2 separate regions of the Homo sapiens genome follow, and region 2 is linked to region 1. The links come from fine-mapping of genetic effects on gene expression. Tissue or cell type: thyroid. Region 1 holds a variant in brackets; the other region holds the start of a gene. All regions are shown on one strand. Distances are between the middles of the regions.

The links. PIP is the estimated chance that this variant, and not a neighbour inherited with it, causes the effect.
Region 2: it holds the start of GNAQ, and the variant in region 1 is fine-mapped to the expression of GNAQ in thyroid (GTEx, PIP above 0.99).

What each region holds. Positions count from the first base shown.
Region 1 is chr9:77,851,710-77,859,817 of GRCh38, forward strand. The region is part of intron 2 of GNAQ (G protein subunit alpha q); the gene reads right to left. Among named protein-coding and RNA genes, the nearest start is that of GNAQ, 180 kb to the right of the region's middle. RefSeq lists a silencer at 4,410-4,610. The variant T/C (reference allele first, on the strand shown) is at 4,793.
Region 2 is chr9:78,027,735-78,035,842 of GRCh38, forward strand. It overlaps GNAQ (G protein subunit alpha q), which reads right to left and starts at 4,077. Exons shown (of 7, transcript NM_002072.5): 1 at 3,366-4,077. The coding sequence starts at 3,501. RefSeq lists an enhancer at 3,266-4,160.

The DNA of each region.
Region 1 (8,108 bases):
TACAAATGCTGGTAGCAGCATGTCATGGAAAGTTTGCTCTGTTTACTTTAATTGTTGTTGCTTTACTTCTGCCTGCTGCAAAGACCCCTTTTCTTTACAGTCCATCGTTTCCAACCCATGCAATGCACAACCTAATACCAACTGAGCTGGCACCACTCCTTTGATGTATTTTTTCAGAGGAAGGTTATTTTTGCTGGCTTGAAAGGTTTTCTTTTCTAGCTTTAGGTAAAAATCAGCAAAGATTCCAGTTCTTATCAATTGAGTGCTTAAGTAAACAGAGCAGGTGCCAAAGTCAATAGGATATGGAAAACAAGATTCTGCTGAAGATTATTTGTAATGGGGATCAACTGCTGACATAGAATCAGGAGTTCACACTTGATGAAAAAGAACATGAAAGAGGAAAGAGCCCAAATTTCAAAACACAGGGGCAGGGTTGGTTTGCCTGCAGCCAAGTCGGTTAGGCAAGGCTCATGTTTTCATGAAACTAGATGGGGTTTCCTTCTTGCATCGGAAGAAAGCTCTCACAAATACAGAGAATAAAACTCTCCATTCTGCCTCATCCTCATTTTAATAAATTCTCAGTGCCTGCAGTGACGTCCTGACCACTTCACTCACTTAGGACAGTCCCTTCTGTGCCTGGACTCAGAGCTCCAAGGCATAAGTGCTTTGGCAGAGCAATGAAGAAGGGTGCTGGAGTATAACTGTTCAGTGGCAGAATAACCATGGCAATGCATAATCAACCTGTTCTGCCTGCCAAGGCCCTGAAGCCACACATCTGCTAAACAGGGTGTGCTTCCTCCTGGCTTTCATGCCCCAAAGGCACACTCAAGACCCTCCACTAGCCACAGGATTGAAAAGGTTGGCTCCTCCAGTCCTTCACAGCAAGGTGAATTTACATCCTCTTTCCAGGTATGCCTCCCCGAAAGCATCCCTGCTAACTTTGGGACTACGTGATCGCTCAGTGCTCTTTCTCCTCCTACTGTTTTATGTCCTTTGACACATATCACCTTTTGCAGGCTGCTGAGATCACTCAGTATCTCATGAGGAAACCTCACATTTTCATATTTACAGTTATATCCATGGCCTATTATTTATAATTATACTGTCTGTAATTATGAAGGACATTACTCCTTCATCCCTACTTTGATAGCAAGGCACAGTGATTTCATCTTCATTTTTCCAGCGGAGAAACAAACAAAATAGGCTGAAGAATATACACCCAGGCTGTCAGTGGTAAGGCACACTACAGAATAATGGTTCTCTCAGCATAAACCTTCAAGAACGTCCAGATGGAGAAAAGAACATACATTTTTCCTTTGTCTCTTTCTATAAAAATGGATAGTATTTTAGAAAAGGAAAAGAGACAGATAAAAGTGGGTAAGAATTGTTACCAACCAAACTATGATAACGGGAAGAAAATTTTAGAAAGCAGTACACTACATGTTATTAATATTTTCCTGTTTCATGGTCTTCCACCCAGAAGAACAAAGAGAATTTGTTGGCAGCTGTCAAGAGTCAGCTCTGAGCTGGAGTTAATGCTACTATGTGGCTCTTTGGGCATATTTTTAACTTCTTAGTTCCTCATCTGAAAATAAGGATATAAGAGTAGTTATCTCAAAGGGATGTTACAGGGCTACATGAAATGATGTATATAAATAGTAGTAACAGGGCCTAGTACAAGGCAAATGGTTAATATACCTTGTGACATATTATTATTATTTATACCACTGGACGAAATTTCAGGATTCTGACCTCAGTAAGTATGAGCATAAAATTTTATTTCCAAAACCATTCACTATGAAAGAAAACCATGGAAGCCATTCTCTTGACTAAGAACTCGACAGCCTTCCGGACAATACAAATATATCAGTAGAGGCTCAGTGATTGTAGATTTTGTGTCAAACTCTGGGAAATCTTAACTGGCAGTGTGAAAAATAAACCTACAATATGCACAACCACAGGTCACAGATACAGCCATGCTGTACGTAATAGAGAACAGCGGCTACTCCTGTGTGTCCTATTATTCCAGCGGATTTCAATTTAGGATCTTTGTGAAATTACTACCAAAAAAAAAAAAAAAAAAAAAAAAAACCCACAGGCACTATTTCATCAGGAAAAAAAAGCAATTACCTTATATCCACCCTGTCCCATTTCTAAGAATCGTTCCACTATTACATAAACCACCTAAATGAATTTTGGAGTGCCTCCAGGCGAGAGGACAGAGGTTCCTGAAATCTGTTGATATGATGACAAGCCACTGCTATAGGAAAAAATGAGTTAGGGGCTCAAACTATTTTTGATCCTAAGTTGGAAGAACCTCTGATTTTTATCCTACAACCCAAATATAGATCCATTATTTCATATGGGTCACATGCCTCTCTTACATCCTGTATATTTTTATAACTCTAACATGAAGATCCATAAGTACATAATATAGAGGACTATGAAGTTTGCTTCTAGAAAAGTACTCTTTTTGGTTTTTTTAAAAAGCATTTTTAGCCCAGAGATGAATGTGTTTAAAAGACTATTAAAGATACAATGGCTAAAGAACAATGTCTTATGAGAAATAAGAATTGATCAACTTTGAGGTTTGACCTAATGCAACTGATACCCCTACTTACTGTTTAGGAATTATAGGTCACATCAATTTCAAAATCAAAATTCTGAAAATATGTGCTATTGTCAGGAAATGTTAAAAAGGAAGGAAAACAGGAAAGATTTGTCATGGGGCAAGACTAAACACAGGTTAAGTGGCAGTGATGCTCATGCTTGGGAAGTTATCTGCTCATTAATTGCTTCAGGTTTGGTCTGTTCATGCTTACTCTTTCTCTTTAAATGGCCCCTGAAGCCAGAAACAAATCAGCAAGATGTACAAATGCCTTATTTTCTCTGCCCTGGTCTGCCCTACTCATTCATAAACAAACGTGTGAATGCCGTTTAAGAAGCTAAGGCCAAGGCAAGCTTATTTCCTCTCTCCATATACTATAACCAGCACAACCACAAAGTTCAAACTCTGCTGGAGCAGTGTACCTAATGCAATCTACAGGGACCAAAGGACAGACAGTATAATTTATAGGTTGGCATGCTATGCAGGACAATGGTATCGATCCTGCTTTTCTATGAAGAGAGGATAATTACAATAAGATTTGCTCACCTAGAAGTTCAGGGTTTCGTGTGGAATGGAAAAGTTTAATTGAAAAAAGCTTACATTTTCAAAGAACAAATAACCAGTCTTTCTGGGAAATGGGCACTTCAAAAGTAGGAGAAGAGAATATTTAATAAAGCTCTGCAGATATTTTACTGGTTACAACTGTCTCTTACCCCAGAAATGACGTCAGTGGCAACATATGACAGTATCAATAGTGTGCCCTAGTGTGCCCTTGTTTCAAGCCTTAAAGAAATTGCACTACCTTGCATCACAAGAATGGTCAGATGACATCATAGTGAATAAATTTATCTGAAAACATAAATGAAAATTTAGAAGGGAAACAAGAGGAGACATGAAAATTGGTGTAATGCAGCAGAATCAAGAAAAATTAGGATAAAGAAAGGAAAAGTAATTACAGAGGATATAAATAAATTAAAAGAAAGGCAGAGATCCTAGTTAAAGGCCAACGAGCAGTTATTTTTTTTAAAGTCCCTTGTAAAAAATAAAAATCAATAAAAGCAAACGAAAGAACCTGTGGCTTCCTGGCTAGAGATATAAGCTGTGTTTTAAATCGCAGTTCCCCAAAAAATGACTTTGCAGGTTTATACTTTGATTTTGCATGGTATATCTATATTACTAGCCCAATTATGTCATCTTTTTTTCGCCCTCTTTGAGCTCTTTGAAATAAGGTCTGTTTTATATGAAAACACAGCCCATGTCTATGATGGAATAAAAACCCCGTAATTAAACATGCAGAAATAAATATGATTACCCACAGCAAGAAAACAAATGCCATCACTCATGTTAATCTATTAAAGTATTTCAAGGCAAAGATGCTGAGATTTAATTTCCTAGTGAAAGTCAGTTTCACTACCTACCAATAAAAATGCAATAAAATGAACTCTCAAAAAAAAAAGCCCTCTGCCATTTGCTATAAAAGTCATGACTGGCTATAATATAACCAAAAAAGTGACTCTAACAGGAGCATCTATTGTTATTTTATAATTTCATTGAAAATATTTTAATTTAGTTCTTATATTTTATACACACTTTGGTTAATGTATATGTATCTATAGATATACATAACACAATAAACCTTCTAGTCAAGAGAATAAGGAACATAACACAGACTATAGCTAAACTGCTGACATTAGGCTCAGCTCATAGATCTTGCTTACCAACTATTTGCTGAATGAATAATAATCTACACATCATTTACATGTGTTTTATATTTTGGCATGGGTAGTGCTGGCTTTTCAATGAAAGGCATTCTTGGGCCTACACAAATACTTTCATTATCTGACTGATGGGGGTACAGGCTGATTTATGGGTGTGTTTACCCTGTAAGTGATTCTCTAACTCTGGAGGAACTGAAAAGTATCTAGGTTCTCCATCTTGTGATTTCAGACTTAGCTGGTTCCTATGAAAGCCAAGTGCAATACCCCAGAGCAGGGGAGATGAACATTTTATATGCAAATGATTGATGTATTGTATATAGAAAGAATTGGAAAATTTCAAAATATATATATATTTCTATAGGAAGGAAGGCATGGGGTGGATGTGTTTTTAACTATTACACATGGATTAACTCAACTTTTTAATAAACTGGGGAAACTAGGACTTTCTTCTAGAGTAAGTGAATAA[T/C]ATCAGTATTTCATACACAATAGTTTACAATTGGCAGCAGGTAACATCTAAGTGATTCTTTTCTGATGGAGATCCTCTTAAGGAGACTAAGCCTTGCCCCGAACTTCAGAATTTCAACATGACTATAGCAGAAGAGAAAAGACTGAGAAAGACTACCTAGCAAATTTAAGGAAACTTCTTTGTAAGTAATTACTTTAAAATTATTTTTATAATATATACTGTGCATACTTTCTAAATGCATCTGTTTAGCAGGAAATTAATGATTCATCCAGGAAAAATGAGTTAGGCTGTATTAAGCCGTTATTACTTTTCATTGTTTAACCTTGCAAAGCAGTATCATGAAATAAGTAAGAGAAATATTTAACATGACCTGGTACCAGCAGTTCTCTTAAATATTTGTTTGTTTAGCTGAAAGGGAATTTGTAAAGAGGGTGGAAATAGTCTGTGAAACCAAGAGGTGTTAGTGCCATCTGGACCCACTCTCTTCCAAATTCCCTCTGTCACCATGCCCTCCTCTTCCTCAAGGAAAACAGTGAGCTGACTTTCTTAGCATTCTAATCACCATCACCTCTAAAACTACAGCAAGGCTGAGAGGTTCAGCAAGACATGCTAGGCAAGGCAGCAGAGTGAAATTCAAACCTGTCAAGGCTCAAGTGGGTGAAAAACCCAAACATGGAATTGACCAGATTCTCTTCATCACCGTTGGTATTAGCATCTTGCAACCGCGGGCCCATTTCTTTACCAAACATGGATTACTCTGTTGTGAAATTCAATCACTTTCAACAGGCATCTAGAACTCGACCTACATCTCTTAGCTTTGTTAAGATCAGCGGTGTACAGCTCCCTGAAATACCATTTTTAACATTACACTTCTTATCTAGATCTTTGTTTAACTTGCAGGGATCCAGATCATATGTAGTACACACTGTATTCCAATCTAAAAGGATGGGGAGGGAACAGGAAGGGAAGGAAGGGAAAGAGAGGAAGAGAGGAAGAGACACAGGAAAGAAGGAAGGGAAGAAGGAAGGAAGGGAAGAAGGAAGGGAGGGAGGGAGGGAAGGAAGGAAGGAAGGAAGGGTAGAAAAGAGAAGGGTAGGGAAGGAAAGGAGAGGAAGGTGGGGAAGAAAAGGAAGGACGGAAAGGGGGGAAGGAGGGAAGGAGGGGAAGGAGGGAAGGAGGGGAAGGAGAGAAAGGAAGACAGGAAAGGGAGGAAAGAGTCTACCTAAATTTCTACTCTGAATGTTAATGCCTGTTAATAATAAGAGGGAAGACTTTTATACTCTTTTTTTTTTCAAGGCCATTTTCTTTTCTCCTGTTTACCTTAATGAAAAAACAATTTATAGGTAAAACATTTTGAGAAGGCAATAAAGGTTTTTTTTTTTTTCCAGTTCTGAATTGAGGTCACATGTTTCACATAGCATCAGGCTTCTTTTTATTTCCTTACAAACTCCCCAAAAGCTTTTTTAAACAGAGCTGTCAGCTCTGTTTGTTCCAGTCCCTGATTTACAAAGCGTCCATGGATGAGAGCAAGTACCAAGTAGGAAAGTTACTGCAGCATTTCCATTACAAACCATGCTTTTCAATCTCCCCTTCCTGCTTTCCACAGCAGCTCTCTCTGCTCACCCCAACCCTGGCATGAGGAGTATCTAGGATTTCAGGGCAGGAGATGGTTTTCAGCACTGGCACAATCATGAGATTGAGTCTCCAGACCCAGCAGCAGTGTGGGTTCTGTGCTTTATCCTCCAGCACTGGGATTCCAACGCAGAGACAGGACTTTGACCACATAACCTGGGAGATCTTTTCAATACAATACGTAGTCTGACCTAGTTGAAGACCATTGCTCTAAATCCATAGGAATGAGTGAATCAAAGAAGGGAGGGTTTTCTGTTGCCCCAATCAGCCCCCCTCAACCATTTAGAGTGACCACTACTACCTTCATTTCACTGCCAGATCGTAAGTTGTTGTCTTTACTTCTCCCTATTCCCTTAATCACCCTCTCTCAATCAATCTTCTGCTCTCAGTGGACATGGAAACAACTCTTTCAGAGGTCTCCAAAAGCCTACGTGTGGCTTCTTCTCAGTCTTCACCCTCCTCTGTAGTGTCTGACGCCATCAGTCACCCCCTTCTTCTTGGAAATGCTGCCTAGTTCTCCACCAGCCTCTCCAGCCATGCTTCCTTTCTCTGCTTGGCTCTTTCTTTCCTTTTACTGATCCCACGTGCAATCATCTGCCAGAATTCCATGCCCAGCCCACTACTTCTCCATATTAGCCCACTGACCATCTTGGCCATTCTCTGAGCTGCAGCTATCACCTGTACACAACTAACAGCCAAGTCTCTTCCTTCCCTAACTCAGGCCCTCTTCAAAGCACTTGAGTTTTGTAATGGCCTGAAGGCACCTCACCTCAACTCACTCCTTCCGTTGGTGCCTCTGTACTTTCCTATTTCCATTCGTGTCTTTCCATCTCCATACTTAGGCCCCATCACACTAGCTATAAATGTCAGCTTCTTGGACTGTTTTTACTTCTTTGCCTAACACATCAAACACAGGAGCAGAGTCCTGCCTGTTCCTACCTAAAATGATCTTCCCATGTTGACACCCCCAATTTCACATCGCCTGTGGGAGTACCAATACCTGCTCTAAATGCTAACTCCTGGAAATTTTCTCTGGTCTCCTTTGAATGCAAGAACTCTATTCTTTCCAGTACTATTCTATAACGTAATTGTAACACCTCATACTCTGCTGATGAATAACAAAATGAAACCCAGAAACGAAGAGCTAATGAAAGTATATTCTTACAGTACATTTAGAAGAATTATCCTATTCACTCCCTTAATGGATTTGTTTTGCTTTAACTACAGAAGGAGATAGATGTGAAATAATGATAAATTTAATAATTTCATTAAATCAATCCTACATTTAGATCCACATATCTGTTTGGATACACTATGTATAGTAAAAAGCATATGAAGCTTAGTAAGCCATCAGTATGAAACCTGAAAATATGATTTAAAAAGAATTATCTCCATTAGCGTAAATTGGAATTTTTGCTTTAAAGTAAAGAAACAACGGTTGCCTTTCAACTTAAACACACCAACTCTAAGCCCTGGTAACCATAAGACCCGGAGTTGTAAGAAGATCTGAAGCTCAAGAAAATTAGCTCCATTCAGGATGTTCATTTGTTTATAGATTTGGACAGACTGCATAACAGCAGCTTTTCAATGGAAGCCAAGATTTTAACATGGTATTTTAAAGTACCTTTAGACTAGCATCAGCCATACAGAATGCAGTAAAATATGAGGCTGGCTATGTAGGATG
Region 2 (8,108 bases), 180 kb after region 1:
GAGCAAAACTCCATCTCAAAAAAAAAAAAAAAAAGACTGGCCTAAACTTTGCCTGTTTCAATAGCGATAATTCAATCAATTAAAGGGGTTTACTAAGTCTTCCTATTTGATAATTAAGATCTAAAGAGTAAAAGACTTCAAAAACGTGTAAAATAAGAACAGGTTAACAGGAAAAAAATGTTTCTTCTAGGAACTGAAAAAAATTTCAGGATAACTATATGTAACATGAAGCAGGCACTCAAGGCCACTTGTATTACACAGACTTACAAATTATATTAAATGAGGTTATCTATGTACCACCAACAGAAATATTTAGTGAATATTCATGAAAATTAATCAATTAAAGAAAATATGTGCTTTATACCTACAAAATATATAAAAACATTAACCAAGTTAAAATGAAGTATGCTCTTGTATATCTACATAGAATACAAAGAGTAAGTTTTGAGTGTCAAACACTAACATAAATGAATTCAAAGAATGAATAAGTTAAAAGACAACAAGAAAATAATTCAAAATTTAATGTAATATTCTTATAGTGGTAGATTTCAGGGTTCACGTTTCTAAAGTTAAAATAAAAATATATAATATATAAGCATACGGAATAAATTTGGAAGACTGGCATAGTTGCCGAATATAAATCAACATAGCCCAAATTTTACTGCCATACTTTCATCTAGTCAGGTACCCACTAATTGTCTTTTTAAATGTCTCCATATTATTAATACACAAAAGTAAATAATTACATGAGCAAATGCAAGGGTACCCACTTTTATCCCTGTCAAACAAATCCTCTTCCATTAAAATGGTATCAAGCCTTGAACTAAAATTTACTTTGAAAACAATTTTACATTGATTTTCATTTCAAAATACTTATTCCTCCATAAACTAGTTAAAAATATTAGTAGATCTTTAAACTGTGAATGGATACATCTTATAATCTCCTCTAGATAGGTTTGTTTAAATGATAGAAGGAACCAGAACATTCAGTGTACTCATCAAAGCAGCGAATCAGGAATTCCTCAAATGAAATCCCTCCCTAATATCTTCCTTGTTGAAATCAACCGTCCTGGATTCAAAAACTCCTGAAATCACACTCATACACATACACGCACGCACAAATCCACATTTAGCGTATATTACTACAGAAATAGTGTAAGTATTGTAGTATTCATGTTGCAAAAGCAATATACCAAGAACATGAAGCAGTAGCAATTCTTGCATGATGTTCCGCTAATAAGAGGAAAAAAAAGTTCTCCACACTACCACCACTTTAGCAGTAAAATTGGTTTACACTTTTTCTCAGAAAATTATCTCCAAGTTCATTTTTAAAAGCACAGTGTTATTTAAATACACAGTATGGAATTAAGCATCCATGTAAGTGTATTTCCCTTAGACATTCAAACCTAGGCCCACTGAGAAACTCCCTGGGCTTTAACTCTTAGCTGCTGGGAAACTCAGAGCTGTCACTTTTCAGGCAAATAGGGTTGGCTGGAGAGACCTCAACTGCCCAGTTCACAATTAAACAGAAACAAAGACTGTCAACAGGGCAATAAAATAAAAAAAAAACACAATTCTTAAAACAAGTCTCTCTAAAATACGTGCGTTTCCCCTTAATTATACACTTAAAACACTCTTATTTCTTTTGTTCTTTATTTTCTTCTCAACCTTGAGAACTCAGAAAACATTCAACTGCCTGTTTTCAGCCACTAGAAGTAGCTCAAAATGAGAATTAAAAAAAAAAAAATCTTTACTTTCCAATTGCAGTTTGCCTCCTCCCTGGCTTCATTCCCCTAAGCCCAACTCTTTCATCCAGTGCTTTTGCCTTCTGCTTTTTATAAACATGTGCACATTTATCTAATTGAGTTTCAAAATGAAGACATAAAGAAAGCATGTCATGGGAATTAACTATTAGTAACTATGTGTGTGATCAGTATATTTTGTTCCTGCTTGTAAATGATCCAGTACATAAGCAGTTCATTCCCAAAGGCAATTGGTTCCTTGAGCCAGCAAATGGAATGCTCAAGATAAGAAAGAAAATGCATGCTTCTCACAAACACCAACTAACAGTACAATATTCTTTTCTTACAGAAATGTTTGAGAAACACATTTATTATACATGCAAATACCCAGAACACAAGTGCAGACATTTTTCAGGCCCGTTACTGCAAAGCTGTTTGCTCTTCCTGCCACAGTAGCTCAGGGTTCTGTCACTGTGGCTTGTATATGAACCCTGATCGCTTGATTCTGAACATCCTCCCAGAGATAATCATCAATAAATTTCTATTTGAGAAATGGCATTTTCTTGCTAACTTAGTGTTGAAGCAGAATTTTTTTTTCAAGACTAGAGGGAAATTTTTCCTGTATGCTTCCCGTTTTTCCTTCTCGCCCAGATTCCAAAGACATTAAAATGCTATCTGTTTTAAACAAAAGGTTTCTATTTGTTGCCAAGAGAGTAACTGAGAGACTGCACTGGTTTTCGGTAGTAACTATTGTGAACTGAGGCCTACATCTAGGTTGCCTCATTAAACAAAAGATACCGGTCGCTGTCAACAACCACACAGCACAACGCTCCCCTACCCTCATCTTTATCTAGAAGGAATGGTGCAGACGAGAATAACGCCTGTCACCATCCACTGGCCAACTCTTCTAGGCTCCCTCCTTTCGATGGTCTGGTGGCTAGAGAACAGCACTTGTGTGACACATTTGGGCTTGCCCTCCCGCCTCGCCCCCAGTACACAGACCCTTTCCTTGGAGGGCCAACCACTTGGCTTCCTCACCATGAGTGCTCCGGGAATCCAGCTGCGAGTCTGCCCACCGTTCCCCCATTCCCTCCTGACCCCATAGGGCACTGATAATGGATGCACACCGGCCACTCCACCGCAGGCCATCCCCCAACGTGCCCCGGCTCCGCTCGCCACCCGCTGGGCCACACACACGGCTCCCCACGCCACCACCCCATGGGGTGCCGCGGCCACGACACTGGAAGTTCAACCCCTCTGCCCACCTTTCCACCCCCGCGCCTCTGGTCGGAGTGATCTGCCATTTAGCAGATGCACAGCAGATAAGGTACAGCCCTCAGGGACACGAAAAGGAACAAGCCAAGGCACCGGGCAGGGCAGCCCCGACCCCTGTGCTGCGTGTGTGTGTCGCTGTGTGTGTGTGTGTGTGTGTGTGTGTGTGTGTCTGTGTGTAACGCGCCCGCGCGCCCGCGCGGGTGAAGGCAGTGGCCGGGGGCGCGCCCGGGAGGGTAGGGGCGAACCGCGGGCGCCGGGGGGCGGGGGCGCCGAAGGCAGCTGCCCCGCAGGGCCAAGGATGGTGGGCTGGGGGCGCAGAGGCCCGGCGGGGCCCCGGACGGTACTCACCGAGCAGCAGCAGCTTGAGCTCCCGGCGGGCGTCCCGCTTGTCCCTGCGGAGCTGCCGCTCGATCTCGTCGTTGATCCGCCGGGCTTCCTTGGCCTCCTCGCTCAGGCAGCACGCCATGATGGACTCCAGAGTCATTCTTCCAAAGTGCCTCCGCTGCAGCCCCGCCGGCACCCCCTGCTCACAGCGCGCACACACACCCTCCCGCCCTCGCTCCCCCGAGGCAGCGGTGGCCGCCGAGCCCCCGCCGCCCGGGCGCGCGTCCGGGACGAGCTCCGGGAACCGCCGCGGGGGCGGCGGCCAGGGCCGGGGCCACCAGGTGGGCCGGGGGCGCGGTGGGAGCGGATAGTCTGGGCCGACGGGAGAAGAGAGGCGGGCGCGGGAGGCGGGCGCTGGCTCGGGGGGCGCGTGAGAGAAGGCCGCCGCGCCCGGCCTCGCTCAGACGCCCGCGCCTCCTTCCCCGGGAACAGGCGGCCCGCCTCGCCCCCCGAGCCGCCGCCGCCGCCGCCGCCTGCGAGGCTCCCCTACGCCGTGCGCCTGGCGGCGAGAGCTCATTCACCGGGGTGTCCCCGCAGCGAGCGGCCGCCGACGGCTCCCCGCGCCCGGCGCGCCCGCTCCTCGCCGCCGCCTGACACGGCTCCCGGGCGCCCTCGGCCCTGTCCGCGCCCACCGCCCGGCTCGCGCGCAGACCCGGTTCCCGTCCCGCCCGGCAACCGCGCGCTCCTCCGCCTCCGCCTCCGCCCCCGCCCCCGCCAGACGCCCACCCCCTGCCCCGATTGCCAGGCGCGGAGCGGCTGCTCAGTGCGAGCCCTCCCCCTCGCCACACACACACATTTTCTTCTTTCTCTGAACTGGAGCACAGATCCGGGAGGGAGGAGGCGGCGGCGAAAGGAGGAGGAGGAAGAGGCGGAGGGGATGGGCGCGGGAGGAGGGAGCCGGGAGGCGGTGCCGCCCGGCCCCTCCTGGAAGGCTTTCCTGGGCTCGCGGCCGCCGCGGCGCGCCTCCCAGTGCGGCTCTCGCCTCGCCCGCGCGGCTCCCGGGCTGGGCCGGCCCCCGCGGGCTCTGCGGACGCCTACTGCTCCCGCACCCTCGGCAGAGTCCGCGGGCGCAGCAGTCACGGCCGCCCCCGGCCGAAGTCGGGGCCAGACCCGGCCGCCGACGCGCAGCCCGAGCCGGCGGCCGCCGTTGCGTGCCAGGGCCGCAGCCGACCTGCGGCTGCCGTCCGGCCGGGCGTGGTGAGACAGGAATATGGCGGCCTCTGCCTGCCTCAGCCCACCGGCCCGGGAGCGCGGCCGCGGCCCCTGCTGAAGTCGCGGGAGGCGGCCCCGCGGAGCCCCGCACGCGCTCCCTGCGGCGCCGGCGCTGGCGTCCGCCGCTCCCGGGCTGTGCCTGTCTGCTCCACGGGGTCGCTCCTCAGCCGTTTCTGTGTTTCCCGTTCCTATTTCTAAAACGCCATTCGGTTAGAAACTCTCACGTCACCTCTGACACCGGTGCAGTCTTAGAAAATAAGCTCCTCTATACTGTGTGGGGCTACTGGGGAAGGGAAGGGAAGGAATTGGCACCGGTGCCCAGAGGTGTAGGGGGAGATTCACAGGCGAAGCTGTTCGCAAAGTAACGTGAGATAGAAATCTAAATCCTGAACAGAGAAAGGAAGCTGCCCAAGTTTCCAAGAGCCTCCCGATAGGTTCCAACTTTTCATGCCTTTGTTTTTTTGGTGGTTGTTGGTTGTTTTTGTTTTTTTAAGTTGTTTTTGTTTTTGTTTTACAAGTTCTCTTGTTTCTGAGAAGGCACACGATGTTTAGCCGCCGAGTAATCGAATTTACTCTTCTAGACTGAGATTGAATTATGGATGACTTATGGGAAAATGTAAAATAATGTGGAATAAAAGGAAAGGAAAGAATGAAATAGAAGAGAAACTAAGGAGGCCCCAGCAAAACGGCATTCTAGTTTTTTTGATTTGCAATATGTGATTGAGGCAGTAAACTGTCGTATGCACATTTCATTGTGATCGTCTACTGATAAATAGCACACGAAAATAATCTTGTTTAATCAGGCCCAGGAGATGAAACTCATATTGCTTCCTGCCTTAAAGGAACCTGAGGTCTTCAAAGAAAATTGTCTTTTATGAAGAGAACCGCTTTTTCACGTTTCATGTGTTCTCTGAAGTGTCCCTGGTGCAACCTGCTGATCCAGAGTGTAAGGTACGGTCATGACTCTGCTTTTGCTACAGATCAAGAACTCATATAGGGTTCTTAGACAACAGGTGTGTAACTTCCTTCTTTCTTTCATTTGCCATTACTCCACCGTTTCACACACATACACACACTCTAAACCACGATTTAAATCAAGCAAGTCAAGATATAAAATATATATTTTAGGTTCTCTGTTTAAAACCTAGAAAATAATTAAATTTCACCTTGCCCTGGAGAGCAGAGAGGGCAAACCTCAACCCTTTTATGTGAATGCCTACAGAGAACAGCTAGACTTGCTATGAAATTAAAATTTAAAATCAAGTGACTAAAGAAATTAAAGATTGAAATTCAGTATGCAAAAATAGAAAGTGGCTTCAGAAGAAAAAATTTTAAGTTTGCATCCTCCGAATATATGTATGTATATGAGCTTTGGAGAGACACAGAACACTGGAAAACCAAATGACAGAAAGCTTGAAGTCTCTGGTTACCTACCCAGGGATCCTCTGAGACTTTTAAAAATGTCTTTTAAAATGAGCCATCAGGCTATCAGGTAATATGTTTTGACTGAATTGTCCTATTATTTGATGAATTCATCTGTTTCAGCGGGCTATAGAGTCAGAGTCTGTTTTGTCCCCCCTGTATCCCCCCAACATCATGAACACTCCCTGGCAACTTAGATACTTAAATGGATGCAATGAATCAATAGGAGAATGTTTCAAGTATTGGGGAGAAACCAGGAAGTAAGAAAAACCAACACTCTACAGTGATAAAGCCATATATGGGTGTCAAGAAGGAAACAGGAAAAGAAATTCCAAGTCTGAGCCCAGATCTATCCAAAAACCTTTTCATATTATCTGGAGAGCGTTTGCCAAGCAAATATTCCTAGAGACTAAGTCAAACAAATAGAACCCATGCAGAAACAACTGATAGTTGACCATGTTCTACAAGCACATACTCTAAAACATGCAACTAAACAGGGATTATGTTACAAAATCCCAGTTCATTCAGTCAACAAGCATTTATTCATTGCCTACTATGTGTAAATAACAGGTGAAGGTACAGGATAAGAGAGATACTAAAATGAATAAAATACAGTCCTTACCCTCCATAGGCTTATAGTCTTATAATGAGGCTCTAAGCAGCTATAATACAAGACTAAAATCAATTTGTATAAAATTTGGGGTGGAAGTAACAACATAAAGGTATAAAAAGGAAGGGGAGAACTGGAAAAGATACGGCAGGAAAAGGGGCATTGACATGCATGTTAAAGAATGAAAAGGTTTTCAATAAATAGGTACCTACATCACCTCAAAGTAAATGAGCAATTCCAAGTCACCCCACACAGAGAGTAAGATGATAAACCATTTTGAGAATTCAAGGACAATTACTAATGAGCTGAAAAGCAAATTGCAATACCCAAGGAAAATTGAACTTCAGAGAAAAATAGGAAGACTGTCACCTTTTCTATGGTATCCTGAGATGGATCTCCAACCCCACAATCATATCACCCTGTCCTTTGGGGACTGGCAAAGAAAAACAGTAAAAGGCATAGTTTAGTCTTAAGGAGTGGTTCTGCAGTCAAAGAATGAAAAGGCCATGCTCTTCTAAAAGGATCTCCTGGGGAAGGAAAGGCCCATAGAGGTCATCAGACACAGGCAATATACAGTACCTCTCTTATTCCCAGTCACTTAGCATGGCTGCTTCATATGCACCATACTACTGTCATTCTCTGTGTTCTCTTTCTCTCTGCCCCCTTCCCCTCTGAATTAGGAGCTTCTTGAGAGCGGGGACCATGTTTTTCATAACTGTTTTCAAGGCACCAGAAAGAGAGCCTAGCCTAGAACAGCTACTCAGTAAATAATGAATAAACAAAAGAATGCTACCACCTACATCATCAACAAACACACACTTACAGACTGCCTGTCCCAGGCAGTGTATTATGCCAGATGCCTGAGGCATACAAAGCCCTTAAAGGCTTCATAATCTATTTGGTGAGACAGGCCATGTGTTTCAAAGAATAAACAATACAAAATGAGAAACACTCGTTGCTAACATACAGTATGGAAAATGGATTGCTAACAAAGTTCAAGAGAAGCAGTTCCCTAAGCTGCCATTCAAATTAACCCAGAGTATGAGGAAGCACACGCTGGTCACCCAGAAGACCTTTTAGAAATCAGCCTGAAGAGCATCGCAGATCCTACAAGAGCTGGGAAAGAGATGTCTGGCCAAGTAATAAAGTGGACTTGCTCGTGGGGAAGAAAAAGAAGCCGACCTAGTGAGACGCTGAGAGCTGCAAATGGCGCCACCTACAGGAACATTCTTATAACAGCAGAAAAACTGAGATTCTTAATTGGAACTGTCCTGTTGAAAGAAGAGCAGGGCCAACATGTTGAAGATGAAAAACTAGGCACGAAGCACATCTTCTAAAAGAGAAAATACCCACATTACAAATCATATAGCAGATATTCTAGAATCTAAATGAAGCATAGTACCTCAGTGACATCTTTCCTTTACCAAGCTCAAAAAACGTACCCGGGTAATACTCTGATTCCA